Linked DNA regions of Homo sapiens: regions 1, 2 and 3 are each reported to be linked to region 4. Evidence: microRNA targets listed by miRTarBase, many of them from high-throughput screens and not tested one by one. Region 4 holds a microRNA gene; each other region holds the end of a gene's coding sequence. Distances are from middle to middle.

Region 1 (3,096 bases), not on the chromosome of region 4:
AGATGGGGTTTCGCCATGTTGGCCAGGCTGGTCTTGAACTCCGGACCTCAAGTGATCCACCCGCCTCAGACTCCCAATGTGTTGGGATTACAGGCATGAGCCACCGTACCCGGCTAGTATGTATGTTTTTAGAAGATGTGATAATCTTTTCTTTTTTTTGAGATGGAGTCTCTCTCTGTCACCCAGGCTGGAGTGCAGTGGCGTGATCTCGGCTCACTGCAAGCTCCACCTCCTGAGTTCACGCCATTCTCCTGCCTCAGCCTCCCGAGTAGCTGGGACTACAGGCACACGCTACCAAGCCCAGCTAATTTTTTTTTTTTGTATTTTTAGTAGAGACGGAGTTTCACCGTGTTAGCCAGGATGGTCTTTTTTTTTTTTTTTTTTTTTTTTTTTTTTTTTAAGAGAAATGAGGATACTATAGATAAGCACCTATTAAAATTTAAAATGTTCACTTAGGTGTTTTCTTTAGCATGAGGTCTGAAGGGTTTATTAAATAAATACTTAAATGCTTTACTCCAAAGGTTTTAAAATAGTTTAATGAAAAAATAAATATAGTGTATGAATGATCTAAGTATGAGAAATAGCAAGGACAAAATAGCAAATATTTTTGTAGGGGAGAAGGAATCTGAATGTGTATGGAATATTAAGGAGAATAAGAAATTAATTTAACAGGGGCTGTGGCGGGGGGTGGGAGAACATGAGGAAAAATAGCTAATACATGCTGGACTTAATACCGAGGTGATGTGTTGATAGGTGCAGCAAACCACCGAGGCACACGTTTCCCTATGTAACAAACCTGCATATCCTGCACATGGATCCTGGAACTTAAAATTAAAAGAAAAAGAAAAAATTAAACAAAATGGTTACTTTTGGCCAGGCATAGTGGCTCACACCTGTAATCCCAGCACTTTGGGAGCCCGAGTGGGTGGATCACTTGAGGCCAGGAGTTCAAGAGCACCCTGGCCAACATGGCAAAACCATGTCTCTACTAAAAAGGAAATACAAAAAAATTAGCCGGGCGTGGTGGCACATGCCTGTAATCCCAGCTGCTTGGGTGGCTCAGACACGAGAATCACTTGAACCTGGGAGGCAGAGGTTGCAGTGAGCCAAGATGGCACCACTGCACTCCAGACTGGGCAACAGAGTGAGACTCTGTCTCAAAAAACAAAAAGTTACTTTAGTATATTTGGGCTTATTTATTTATTGAGACACGTCACTCTGTCACCCAGGCTGGAGTGCTGTGTCAGGATCTTGGCTCACTGCAACCGCTGCCCTCCAGATTCAAGCAATCCTCCCACCTTAGCCTCCAGAATAGCTGGGACTACAGGTGAACACCTGGCCCAGCTAATCTTTGCATTTTTTTTTTTTTTTGAGACGGAGTCTCGCTCTGTTGCCCAGGCTGGAGTGCAGTGGCGTGATCTCTGCTCACTGCAAGCTCCACCTCCCGGGTTCATGCCATTCTCCTGCCTCAGCCTCCCGAGTAGCTGGGACTACAGGCGCCCACCACCACGCCCGGCTAATTTTTTGTATTTTTAGTAGAGACGGGGTTTCACTGTGTTAGCCAGGATGGTCTCAATCTCCTGACCTCATGATCTACCTGCCTCGGCCTCCCAAAGTGCTGGGATTACAGGCCTGACCCACCGTGCCCGGCCATCTTTGCATCTTTTATAGAGACAGGGTTTCACTGTGTTCCCCAGGCTGGTCTTGAACTCCTGGACTCAAGCTATCTATCTGTCTACCTCTGCCTTCCAAAGTGCTGGGATTACAGGCGTGAGCCACCATGCCCAGCCTGGCTCATTTATAATTGTCTAGTTTCCAGTACCTGAGACCACAGGCGTGTGTCATCTTGCCAGGCTAATTTTTGTATTTTTAGTAGAGACAGGGTTTTACCCTGTTGGTCAGGCTGGTCTTGAACTCCTGACCTCAGGTGATCCGCTGGCCTCAGCCTCCCAATGTGCTGGGATTACAGGCATGAGCTAGAGCGCCCGGCCATATTTCCCACTTTGGTTTGGGCTTCTGAAAAAATAAAGGAAGACAATTCTTTCTGCCTATCCTTACTATGTCGTCCTCTGCAAGCTGTCGCCTCTGTATATAAGTACATCTAACAACACTGTCATGAAAAATCTATACCAGAGATATGATTAATTCCACCCACAACTGATGTATGTTTTCTGATTATATTTCTCAAGCCAAATATCTGCAACAATAACATGTATTGAAAGGTATAGAAATAAACAGATGGATAGACAGAAAAAGACTCAGACTGTCTAAGTAGTGAAGTTTGTGCAGAACTAGAAACAAAAATCCACCTGGGTCAGAGGTATAGGGTTAATTTCTCTTGCTGAGGCTCAGATTTCTCCTTCATGCATGTTTAATGGTCCACCTAAGTTCAACTGGAGGAGCATCTTTCTTCTTTGTTAACCAAACATGCCCAGGTAGAGCTGCTTCTCTTTTCTATGGTAGCTGCTGAGTTCTGACTGTGTCAGCTGGAGGTACCGCCGGACGTTGGCATCTTGGAAGATGATGGAGAAGCAATTAGAAACAGTTAGAGTCAGTTAAGACCATAATCATACCTTGTGGCAGGAGAGAATGTTAACATGCTCCCATTTTAAAATCTCTCCAAGATCTGAATATATCGCAACCATTCTATGCAATAGTAAATCTCATTAATTAATAACATTTGGAATTGAAAAAAAACAATCTCTGTCCCGGCTGCTAATTTTTATTTATTTATTTATTTATTTATTTTATTTATTTACTTACTTTTGAGACAGGGTCTCGCTCTGTCACCCAGGCTAGAGTGCAATAGCATGGGATCTCCACTTACTGCAACCTCCGCCTCCCGGGTTCAAGCAATTCTCATGCCTCAGCCTCCCAAGTAGCTGAGATTACAGGCATGCACCACCATGCTTGGTTAATTTTTGTATTTTTAGTAGAGATGGGGTTTCACCATGTTGGCCAAGCTGGTCTGGAACTCCTGACCTCGTGATCCACCCGCCTTGGCCTCCCAAAGTGCTGGGATTACAGGTGTGAGCCACCATGCCTGGACACTGGTTGCTAATTTCATAATGAAAGCAAGATTGATGAAGCAGTTAT
Region 2 (3,113 bases), not on the chromosome of region 4:
GTATGTATATACCACAATGTCTTTATCCAGTTGTTGATTGATGGGCATTTGGGCTGGGTTTCATGTTTTTGCAATTCGGAATTGTGCTGCTGTAAACATGCGTGTGCAAGTATCTTTTTCATATAATGACTTCTTTTCCTCTGGGTAGATACCCAGTAGTGGGATTGGTGGATCAAACAGTAGTTCTACTTTTAGTTCTTTAAGGAATCTCCACGCTGTTTTCCATAGTGGTTGTACTAGTTTACATTCCCACCAACAGTGTAAAAGTGTTCCCTTTTCACCACATCTTCACTGACATTTATATTATTTTTTGATTTTTTGATTATGGCCATTCTTGCAGGAGTAAGGTGGTATCTCATTGTGGCTTTGATTTTTTAAAATAACTTAAGACTACTCACATTCTGACACTTAATTATTTTCTTTCTTTTGAACAACAAAGCTTGATGACCTCACACAAGATCTGACTGTATCCCAGCTCAGTGATGTTGCGGATTATCTGGAAGATGTTGCATAGACACGAAGAAGGAAGTATTCTAATTAACAAGGACAGAGGACTGACCGGTTCCATTTTTTTTTTTTCCAGACAATCACTCAGCTGGAATGTCTGCTCTCTATTGGTGCCTTGCATTTCAAAAACACTGCAGATATTTTTTAAAAGTAATTTTCATTTTACTAAACAAAATACTTCCTATTTGAGCCCATGTGTGGAAGATTTAATATTCTTAATTTAACTGTACATTTCTTTATGGAAATTGATTATCTACACTCAGTTTCATTACAGGGAAGGAACCCATGAAAACATCAGTGTTAAGAGCATGATGAAAGGTGTCAATAAAGCCGTAGGATCGCGCAACCCTTTGTGTGTGTGGCTGCTGGTACGTGTGATCTTTGAAAACCTTGGCTTTAGCCCTCTGGAATCAGAGCTTACCCACCATAGTATATTTTGATATTAGGTGGTTCTACACATAGTTGGCAAAATGACTTGGTAAATTTGTAATGCTGAAGTATATTAGTATAAGTTAAATTTGATGTGTCAACTTTATTTTGTATTTCCTTCCATTTGGAAGGTTTGTTAGACCATTAAGGTTATATTAAAGTACTCTTGTGTGTGCTATTTAGTTTTGCTTGTTTTAAAGAAATCTAGAAGTGGTTATGAGTTTTAATTCATAGAATTGTCAATAACATAACATTTGCAATCGTCATTCCTCCTGTTATCCATGTAAGCAGCTTTAGTCGTAGGTTCTCTTCATTATAATTTATTATCTGTAAAGATTCCTTGAAACTTAAATGCATCTGAAACCATTAAGCAGTGCTTTTATTTCAGATCTGTAAGTTAATTGTATTAAAATCCAAATTGGAATGAAATAGTAGTAATGGCCTAAGACCATGTTCAGTTTGACAAGCTTTATATACTGTACATAATTTCATTGTAACCCTTAAAAATAGAGCCAATAATAGAATTTCCACAGTCTCATTTATACGGTTAAAGCATTATTGCTATTATGTAGGTCACGGATGTTTATAATACTAAAGTATTTTAAAATGTGCAAGTAGAAAAAACAGTAGAAAGTGATGCATGCATATTTATATATAAGTAAAGCAGGATTGTGCTGTTTTTGCACTTTATAATTTCAATTAAGTTGCGGCTTTTTACTACAAGTTAACTTTATTAGTAAAAGGAGCAAATTAGACCTAATTCATTGATCTCGGTTAAGTGAGCAGACTGCATGACTTGTGTAATGCCAGTTTCTCATTTCATATTAGCCTAAATATTACAGAAATTACTCCTTGGGCTCTAAAATGTAGAGGAAATGAAAATGTAAGGATTAAGGCTGTGTAACAGAATCTGGCTTTTTAAAATTTAAGTGAAACTAAGCTGTAAACATCAAGAGGAAGTAGGACATAAACTGGGCCGGTACAGCCTGGGAGCCCTGTGTATTTCTGCCCTCCGTCTGTGAGCTGCTATCTCAGTCTCCTTCAGCTCTTCATGTCTTAGTAAACAGCACCACGTGCAGATGTAATCTTGTTGCAGTCCCCCAGTGTGGTTGTTATAAAATGCATTTCTTTGTAAGTCATCTCTGTAAACAGTCACTTTCTAAAAGCACTATAGTTCTGGTCCCCTGGAATCTGGATCACATGTATGATTTATTTTTAATATTTGATAGGAACTAGGTTTCAGTGAAATGATTTGAAAGCATAGCAGGATGTGGCTTTTTAAATTTATGAAACTTTCGAACAGTAGCAACTGAAATTTGTCACTTTTCTGTTACGCAGAGAATCAGACCTTTTGATAATATTTGGGAGGGTAAAAGAAATATGCCAAATATGAAACTTTTTTGTCAGCACTACATACATCTTTTTTTTGCGGGGGGCGGGGGGGACAGAGTCTCACTGTGTCACTCAGACTGGAGTACAGTGATGCGATCTCGGCTCACTGCAACCTCCGCCTCCTGGGTTCAAGCGATTCTCCTGCTTCAGCCTCCTGAGTAGCTGGGATTACAGGTGCACACCACCACGCCCGGCTAATTTTTGTATTTTTAGTAGAGATGGGGTTTCACCATGTTGGTCAGGCTGGTCTTGAACTCCTGACCTCGTTCCTGCCTTAGCCTCCTAAAGTGCCGGGATTACAGGCGTGAACCACCGCACCTGGCCAGTACTACATCCATTTTATTGAATGATTTTGAATGACTTAAAGTTCAACTATGAAAAAGCTTTCTTTTCACATGTACTTTTTGATTAGGTATTATCAACTTATGAAACTTGAAGATGTGAAGTGACAGGTTTTGCATGTGATGAGTGTTTTCTGTTAAAAAATAAATATTGAAATATTAACCCATTAAATACATTTTTATGGTAACCTATGTTTTACAGTGGAGTTTTAAAAATGCTAGGTCTTTCTTTCATTTTATTGATAACTACAAATGAATAAAAAGCATTTATTCTCTTTGTTGATATTCGGTTGTGCTTTTATACTTTATGTTGGATAACAACCTGTGGGCAGTTGTGTAGATGCCATTAGTCCCTGCCTCATGCTTGCCCACAGCTCTTCCTCCCCTCCTTACTTCCCTCTCCTGCCCATGCACCAGAGCTGTGCCAGCCCACTGCTGCACAGC
Region 3 (3,091 bases), 32 Mb from region 4:
TCACCTAATGAGCGAGAGTCCAGTCATCCACAGCCAGGAGAGACAGGCGTGCTCCGTGAATGTCTCACTCCCTCTCTCCTCACATCGCACACGTGTTCACATGCCACATATACACACCACACAAATGCACACCACACAAATGCACACGCCACATATACACACCACACAAATGCACACGCCACATATACACACCACACAAATGCACACCACACAAATGCACACACCACATATACACACCACACAAATGGCACACCTTCCCTTCACACATCAAACAGGCATGCACACCCCCAAAAAGCCCATACACTCACGTTTCAGGTGTCACTGCGTCATACTCACATGCATGCACACACACATACTCCACAAATGCACGTATGTCACGAAGTTACACCCAGGCCATGCACACAGCTACTTCCAAGCCAATTTGGCTTTTTTGGGAGGCCCATGAAAGAAAAAGGACCTCCTACCACCACTGCCAAGGGTGCAAGCCTAGAGCATCGGGAAGGGGACTAGAGACAAGGGGGTTGAAAAAGATGCCTTAGGGAAAGAGATACTTTCCCTAAACTTGAAACCTAAAACTTAATCTTCAGCGTGCACCACCTCCCATCCCCACAGGCCTTGGCCTGGGCTCCAGAAGGAGGGGACTCTGTGAAGAGTGGCTGGGGCTGAGGAAGCAACCCTCAACACCACTTTGTTCTTTATCTCCTGCTGCTGGCAGCCGCCGTGGTGCCTCAGGGAGACCAGATGGCTGCAGGACTTTGCTGCTGGGGCAGAGCTAGAGAGACAGAACTGCAGACCCAGCCTCAAGATGCAGACGGGACAGGTGCCAACAAAGTTGGGGCCCAGTGAAATCAGAAGCCTGGAAGCGCCTCTGGAGCTGGGGAGGGGGCTGAGAATCCAGGACACAGCTAGATAGGAGGGAGCCCGCGCAGCGGGCGGCAGGCTCAATGCAGCGTCTCCAGACTGCCTGCAACCTCCTGGAAAAAGGCCCCCACCGAGAGATCAGCTTCTGCTCCCGGACCCTCCACCCCCTGCCACACACATGCGTGCACACACACACACAAGGCACAGAGGTGTGGGAGGGGAGGGGCATTTGGAGGATGGCCAAGAGTCCAGGCATACCATGTGAGCACAATCTCTGAAGCTGTGGCTGGCACTGAGTCTACAGCAAAGTCAACCCCTCCCAACCTCAGAATCCAATCTCAGCACAATGCCCGAGTCAGAGATCTCGGCAGTCAGAGCTGTGGAATGTGCTGAAGCATCTACCCCCTTTCCTCAAATGCAGGGCAGTGTCCCTGCCCCTCCCCAACAAATTAATAAATCAAATCCAGATGCAAGCCCAGTCCGCCCGATGCCCTAGGAAATGCCCCAGCCCCACATGCCAGCTGATCCCAGAGACAGCTCTGCCCCCACAGGGCTGTCCTTGGTCATGCCCCCCTTTCAGGAGCCATTGTTTGCCCACCAGGAGTCTAAGTAAAGACAGCGCAGACTTTGAAGCCAAGGAGTTCCCTAGGAAACTTCCGTTGCAGGGAAGAGGAAGGTGGATTGGCCGTCCTTCTGCAGTCCCTTACCATACAGACAGGTCTGGGGACCACACAATACTCACCTCCCAAAATCTGTCCCCGTCTCTCCACCCCTGGTGCATCCCTGTGTCTAACTGAGAATAAATCAACCAAACACAATCATCTGGACATTTTTTGGTTTTGTTCTGTTTTGTTAAAAAAAAGAAAAAGAAGAAAAGACATCATGGCCAACTGGTAGGTTCCTAAGTCTCCTTCCATCCAGTCAAGCCAGAAGATGCCCAGGGGAGTAGGGAGGTGTGGGGAGGGAGGTGTAGGGGAAGGAGATATGGAGAGGGAGGCAGAGCTACAGGGAGCGAGCCACTGGAAGGATAGGTTCATCCCGGTGACTTCATGGCTGTGACCACAAATGGGGTAGGGAACAGGACCCAGGAAGCCCCTCATCCCCTAGCACGTGGGTCTTCTCCATTAGGCACATTCAGTCCACTCTTGCATTCTTTCTTCCCACCCTGACTGCTCAGAGAAATGTACCCCACCTCCCTAGCCCTCTGTGCTTCAAGTCTTCCTTTGACCCCCTTCGCTCTCCCACAGCAGGGCTCTCAGCTGCCAGCCAACCAAGCAGATGGTGCAACAACCAGACCTAAAGGAAGGACCTGGGGAAGAAGAGAAAGGGAGCCTGGCAAGTCTGAGCTTTGGGAGTGGGTCTGGACCTCGTGACCATTACTCCATCTGCTACCCCACGCTTCCTTAGGCTCCCACCCTCTGGCTAGCTTGAGAGGAAGGACGATGGTCAAGGTACATGTCTCTTCTCCTCTGACTCTGGGAATGAGATTTTTCTACTCCCACAGGCTTGAACTCTCCTTATAGGAGTGTCTCCACATGCCAAAATCAGAGGAAGTCAGAATAAAACCTCCCAAGGCTGAAAACTAGAGCTGGCACGTAGTACATGGTCAGTAAATGTTTTTAGGTGGCTGGATGAGTGAAGGAATGAGTGAGTGAGTGAATCCAGGATCGATCTGGAAACACACCAGGGCTCAGACCTCTTGGGCTAAGTGCCAGTCTCAGTCCTCTTGGGCTGTGTAACACCAAAGAGAACACCCCAGGCTCTGGCTTACCCCAAGGGCACACCCATGCTCACAAACACACACACACGCACGCACACGCACACGTGCACACGCGCATTTGAGGGAAACTTCTGGGCCGCAGGCAGAGACAGGACTCAGACTCAGACTCCACTCTGGGTCAGCTCTGCAGCCTCCAGAGCACAGGAGTAGCAGGGGACGCTGAGTCCCTGGCCTGCTGGCAGGCCTCACTCTCGAAAGCTGTCAGCCAGCTGGTGGCAGTCCAGCTCCCCCTTTGGCTCCAGGCCCCCCGGAAGCTTCACCCCCGTCTTCCGGTCCACACACCAGCACTTGCCACGCTGCCCATCCAGAGCTGGGTGACACTGCCAAGAGAAGGACATGAGGGGTCAGTTCCGACGCAGGAAAAGAGACCCCAAGTGACCCACCCCAATCCCAGCCCAGCCCAGCCCCCAAGTCAGACGGTCGCTGCTTCAAGATGGCCTCTGAGGGTGG
Region 4 (3,113 bases):
CCTCACCACCTGTCAGACAGACAGGACTGTCCCTTCAAAGAGGAGGTAGCCAATTTCTGCCTCATTCAGAAATTCAGCTGGGGACTCCCTCCACCTCCTGGAGGCTGAGACGCCAGCCTGGCAGAGACAGCAGGCAGCACAGGGTGGCAGAGGGGCGGGGCTGGGGTGGGGGCTGGCAGGCAGACGCAGGGGTCAGTGCTCACCAGTCTGGCCTCTGGCTCAGCAGCCTCCGCACTGGGAGGTGGGGGCCCGGCACTGCTCCCAGGGCCTCCTGCAACAGCAGCCCCCTCAGCACGGGGGAGCTCCTCCAGCTGCAGCAGATTGAGCTGGAGTGGAGAGCTGCATCTCGAGTTGAACAGTGGAGAGTCCGGGCGGTGAGGAGGACTCGGGGCGAGGGCGGGCAAGGATGGAGAAGGGGAGTGCGAGGCAGGAGTGGGAGGCCCTTCAGCAGGGGTCTGGAGTGCCCCATAAGGATAGCTGGATGGGGTTGGGAACAGATAGTTAGGGAGCACCAAGGCCACCATTGGGGTCACCAAAGGGGCGGGGAAAGCAGCTGGGGGCACAGATGTGGGAGCAGGGGGAAGAGGCTGGGGGCCTCCTCGAGGAGAGAACACTGGGAGAGGGTAGGGCTGGACAACCGCTGGGAAGGGGGTAGTGGCTGGTGGGGTGGGCCAGGGGGTGGAGGGTGGCACGGGTGAGGGGTGTGAGACATAGCAGGGCGCTTCAGCCCGAGGGTTCTGGTGGTGGCGTGAGCGCTTGGCTTTGGATCGGCAGTGGTGTCGGCGGCTTGGGGGTGCGGGGCCGTGGTGGCAGCCTGTGGGGAGAGACTAGGGTTAGCAAGGACCTCAACCTGGGGTTAGTACCCCTGCTACCCACACTGCCCTGACACGCTGACCAGGGAGAGGACAGGCCAAGGTCCCAGAGAGAGCTTCTCAACCCACACAGAACGGGGGACTCAGGAGGTGGGGCACCTTCAGGGAAGAATCACAGGAGCCAGGGACAAGGGGATTTATTGAGAAAGGAACAAGGCCAGGGAGAGGTTACACGAGGGGTCGAGCTGGGGGTGTGCGGAAGATGGAGGCATGCTGGCAGATGGAGGAAGCAGGGTGAGTCCATGGACACATGGACAGATGGCTCTGGTCCGCCAAACTCCTGTGGGCACTGCCAGCCTAGGCATTCCTCCTGCCCATCGAGGCCGTATTCTGCCTAGCTTGCAATGGAGTGAAGAGTGGGGCTGGAAAGCCCAGTCCTGAGTCCTGCGTCTGCCTGCAGGGGATCTCCCTCAGGCACCTGGAGGGGCTGCCTTCCACCTGCCCTTGAAGCCCAGACCCCACCCAGAGTTGGCCCAGAATCTATGCATGTCTCTTCATCAGTGACAACTGACTCCTAAGTGGGCATACTTCCTGCCCCTGCCCCCAGGCTAGGCCTGAAGTCGCTTACCTGGAGACAGCACCTCTGCCTGCCCATCCCAGTGCCATCCCCCCAGGCTGCCCTCCTCTGGCTGCAGCCCGGAACCCCATCCTAGTGGGGAGAAGCTAGCGAGGGGCCTGTCCCTAGGCAGGGCCTAGTGGTGGAAGCAACACCAGCCTGGGTCCCTGGAGCAGAAACACCTCCCTTAAGACCCACCCCCCAACAATCCAGTCCTAGACTGGGCAGAGGGCAGGCTCCAGGAGGCCCCAGGTGGCTACCTCGCTCGCCAAGGGCTGAGGGAGCTGTGGAAGAGCTGTCGAGTCCACGCAGCCTGCCCAGGTCTCGGAAGCGGCTGAGGAAGGCTTGCTCTTCCTTCTGTGTGTGCAGGGACAGCACGGCCTTGGTCAGCCCCACTGGACGGTAGGCGTCTGGGGCTGGGTCAGGGGCTACTGTGGGGCTGGGGGCTGGGCTGGGGGCTGGGCCTGGGGCTAGGCCAGGCAGGTCCTCCATCATGATGATGTCTGAGGAGAGTGAGATAGGGAAAGGTCATCAGAACCACTTCAGGGGTCAACACATCCATACCACACCCTCCCTGTCTGATAGCCTAGCCAACCCCTGGCAGCTCTGCCCCACAGCCAAGCCTGGTCTCCATGTACGTTTCTTGGTCACCTCTCTGCCAACGGCTGGCCCTGGGTCCTCCTCTCCATGCAAAGCTGGCCCAGAAGAAGAGACGATACTCAGGCCCCTCCAGTGGCCACTCCCTGCCAGGAACTCTACTGGGATGACCCCGTCACAACTCTCATTGGAAGAGAAGCCCACCCCTTGGCCTTCCCTCACACATTTTCTTGTTTCTTTTTTTTTTTTTTTTTGACATGGAGTCTCACTCTTTCTCCCAAGCTGGAGTGCAGTGGTGCGATCTCAGCTCACTGCAACCACCACCCCCTGGGTTCAAGCGATTCTCCTGTCCCAGCCTCCCGAGTAGCTGGGACTACAGGCGCGCGCCACCACGCCCGGCTAATTTTTGCATTTTTAGTAGATACAGGGTTTCACCATGTTGCCCAGGCTGATCTCGAGCTCCTGATCTCAGGTGATCCTCCTACCTCAGCCTCCCAAAATGCTGGGATTACAGGCCTGAGCCACCATGCCCAGCCCCTCATGATTTTCAAGGTCAATATCCAAAGACCCTTCAGGGATGTTCAATTTTCCTTGCCTTCAGACCCTGTGTGGTCAGCACCTCAGGGCAAACCCTCTATCCCAGACTCTGTGTTTCAACTGACAGTAACAATACGAGAAGCAGAACAGGGGAAGGGCAAAGCCGAGAAGCCTGGCAGGGAGGGGAGAGCAAGAAGCAGTAGCCCCAAGCCCCAGGTCAAGGGAGGCCTCCTTCTCTCCATCAGGCCCTAGAGGGGAGGGGAAAGGCAGGAGGGAGCTCTAGCTGGGAGACCGGTGGAGCCCAAGCACTGCCCCCCAATTCCACACCCATACCCGACTCCGGGGGCTTCTTGTCTCCCACATGGACGATGGTGGAGCTGAAGCTACACTGACTGGTGACGGACACCACACTCTCCGCCTTATTGGCCAGGGCGAGCGGGCTCAGGGTGCCTCCCACCACTGGCTCCTTCCGTGGGGTGGCCCCCTCCCCAGACAGCGCTGCTGACGGCGGATCTGTGCAGAGAGATGGTGCCAGTTACCATCCCCACCCC

The links. Region 4 holds the annotated microRNA hsa-miR-6883-5p (AGGGAGGGUGUGGUAUGGAUGU, at 1,983-2,004, opposite strand). A microRNA usually pairs through its seed, bases 2 to 8, with sites in the 3' UTR of a target mRNA and lowers its output. Matches are read on the target gene's strand: a 7mer-m8 pairs with bases 2 to 8, a 7mer-A1 pairs with bases 2 to 7 and ends in A, and an 8mer does both.
Region 1: the mRNA of TTC9C is a reported target of hsa-miR-6883-5p. The part of its 3' UTR that is shown has no 7-base or 8-base seed match.
Region 2: miRTarBase lists CEP43 as a target of hsa-miR-6883-5p. The part of its 3' UTR that is shown has no 7-base or 8-base seed match.
Region 3: miRTarBase lists IGFBP4 as a target of hsa-miR-6883-5p. Seed matches in the 3' UTR shown: 7mer-m8 at 1,820-1,826.

Annotation. Positions count from the first base shown.
Region 1 is chr11:62,737,704-62,740,799 of GRCh38, reverse strand. It overlaps TTC9C (tetratricopeptide repeat domain 9C), which reads right to left. Exons shown (of 3, transcript NM_173810.4): 3 at 2,164-2,512. The coding sequence ends at 2,418. Among named protein-coding and RNA genes, the nearest start is that of TTC9C, 11 kb to the right of the region's middle.
Region 2 is chr6:167,039,465-167,042,577 of GRCh38, forward strand. CEP43 (centrosomal protein 43) reads left to right here. Exons shown (of 13, transcript NM_007045.4): 13 at 440-3,113. The coding sequence ends at 514. Among named protein-coding and RNA genes, the nearest start is that of CEP43, 42 kb to the left of the region's middle.
Region 3 is chr17:40,456,319-40,459,409 of GRCh38, reverse strand. It overlaps IGFBP4 (insulin like growth factor binding protein 4), which reads right to left. Exons shown (of 4, transcript NM_001552.3): 4 at 1,685-2,961. The coding sequence ends at 2,827. Among named protein-coding and RNA genes, the nearest start is that of IGFBP4, 14 kb to the right of the region's middle.
Region 4 is chr17:8,143,063-8,146,175 of GRCh38, forward strand. MIR6883 (microRNA 6883) reads right to left here and starts at 2,009; the gene lies at 1,932-2,009. PER1 (period circadian regulator 1) reads right to left here. Exons shown (of 23, transcript NM_002616.3): 17 at 2,896-3,075; 18 at 1,689-1,931; 19 at 204-814.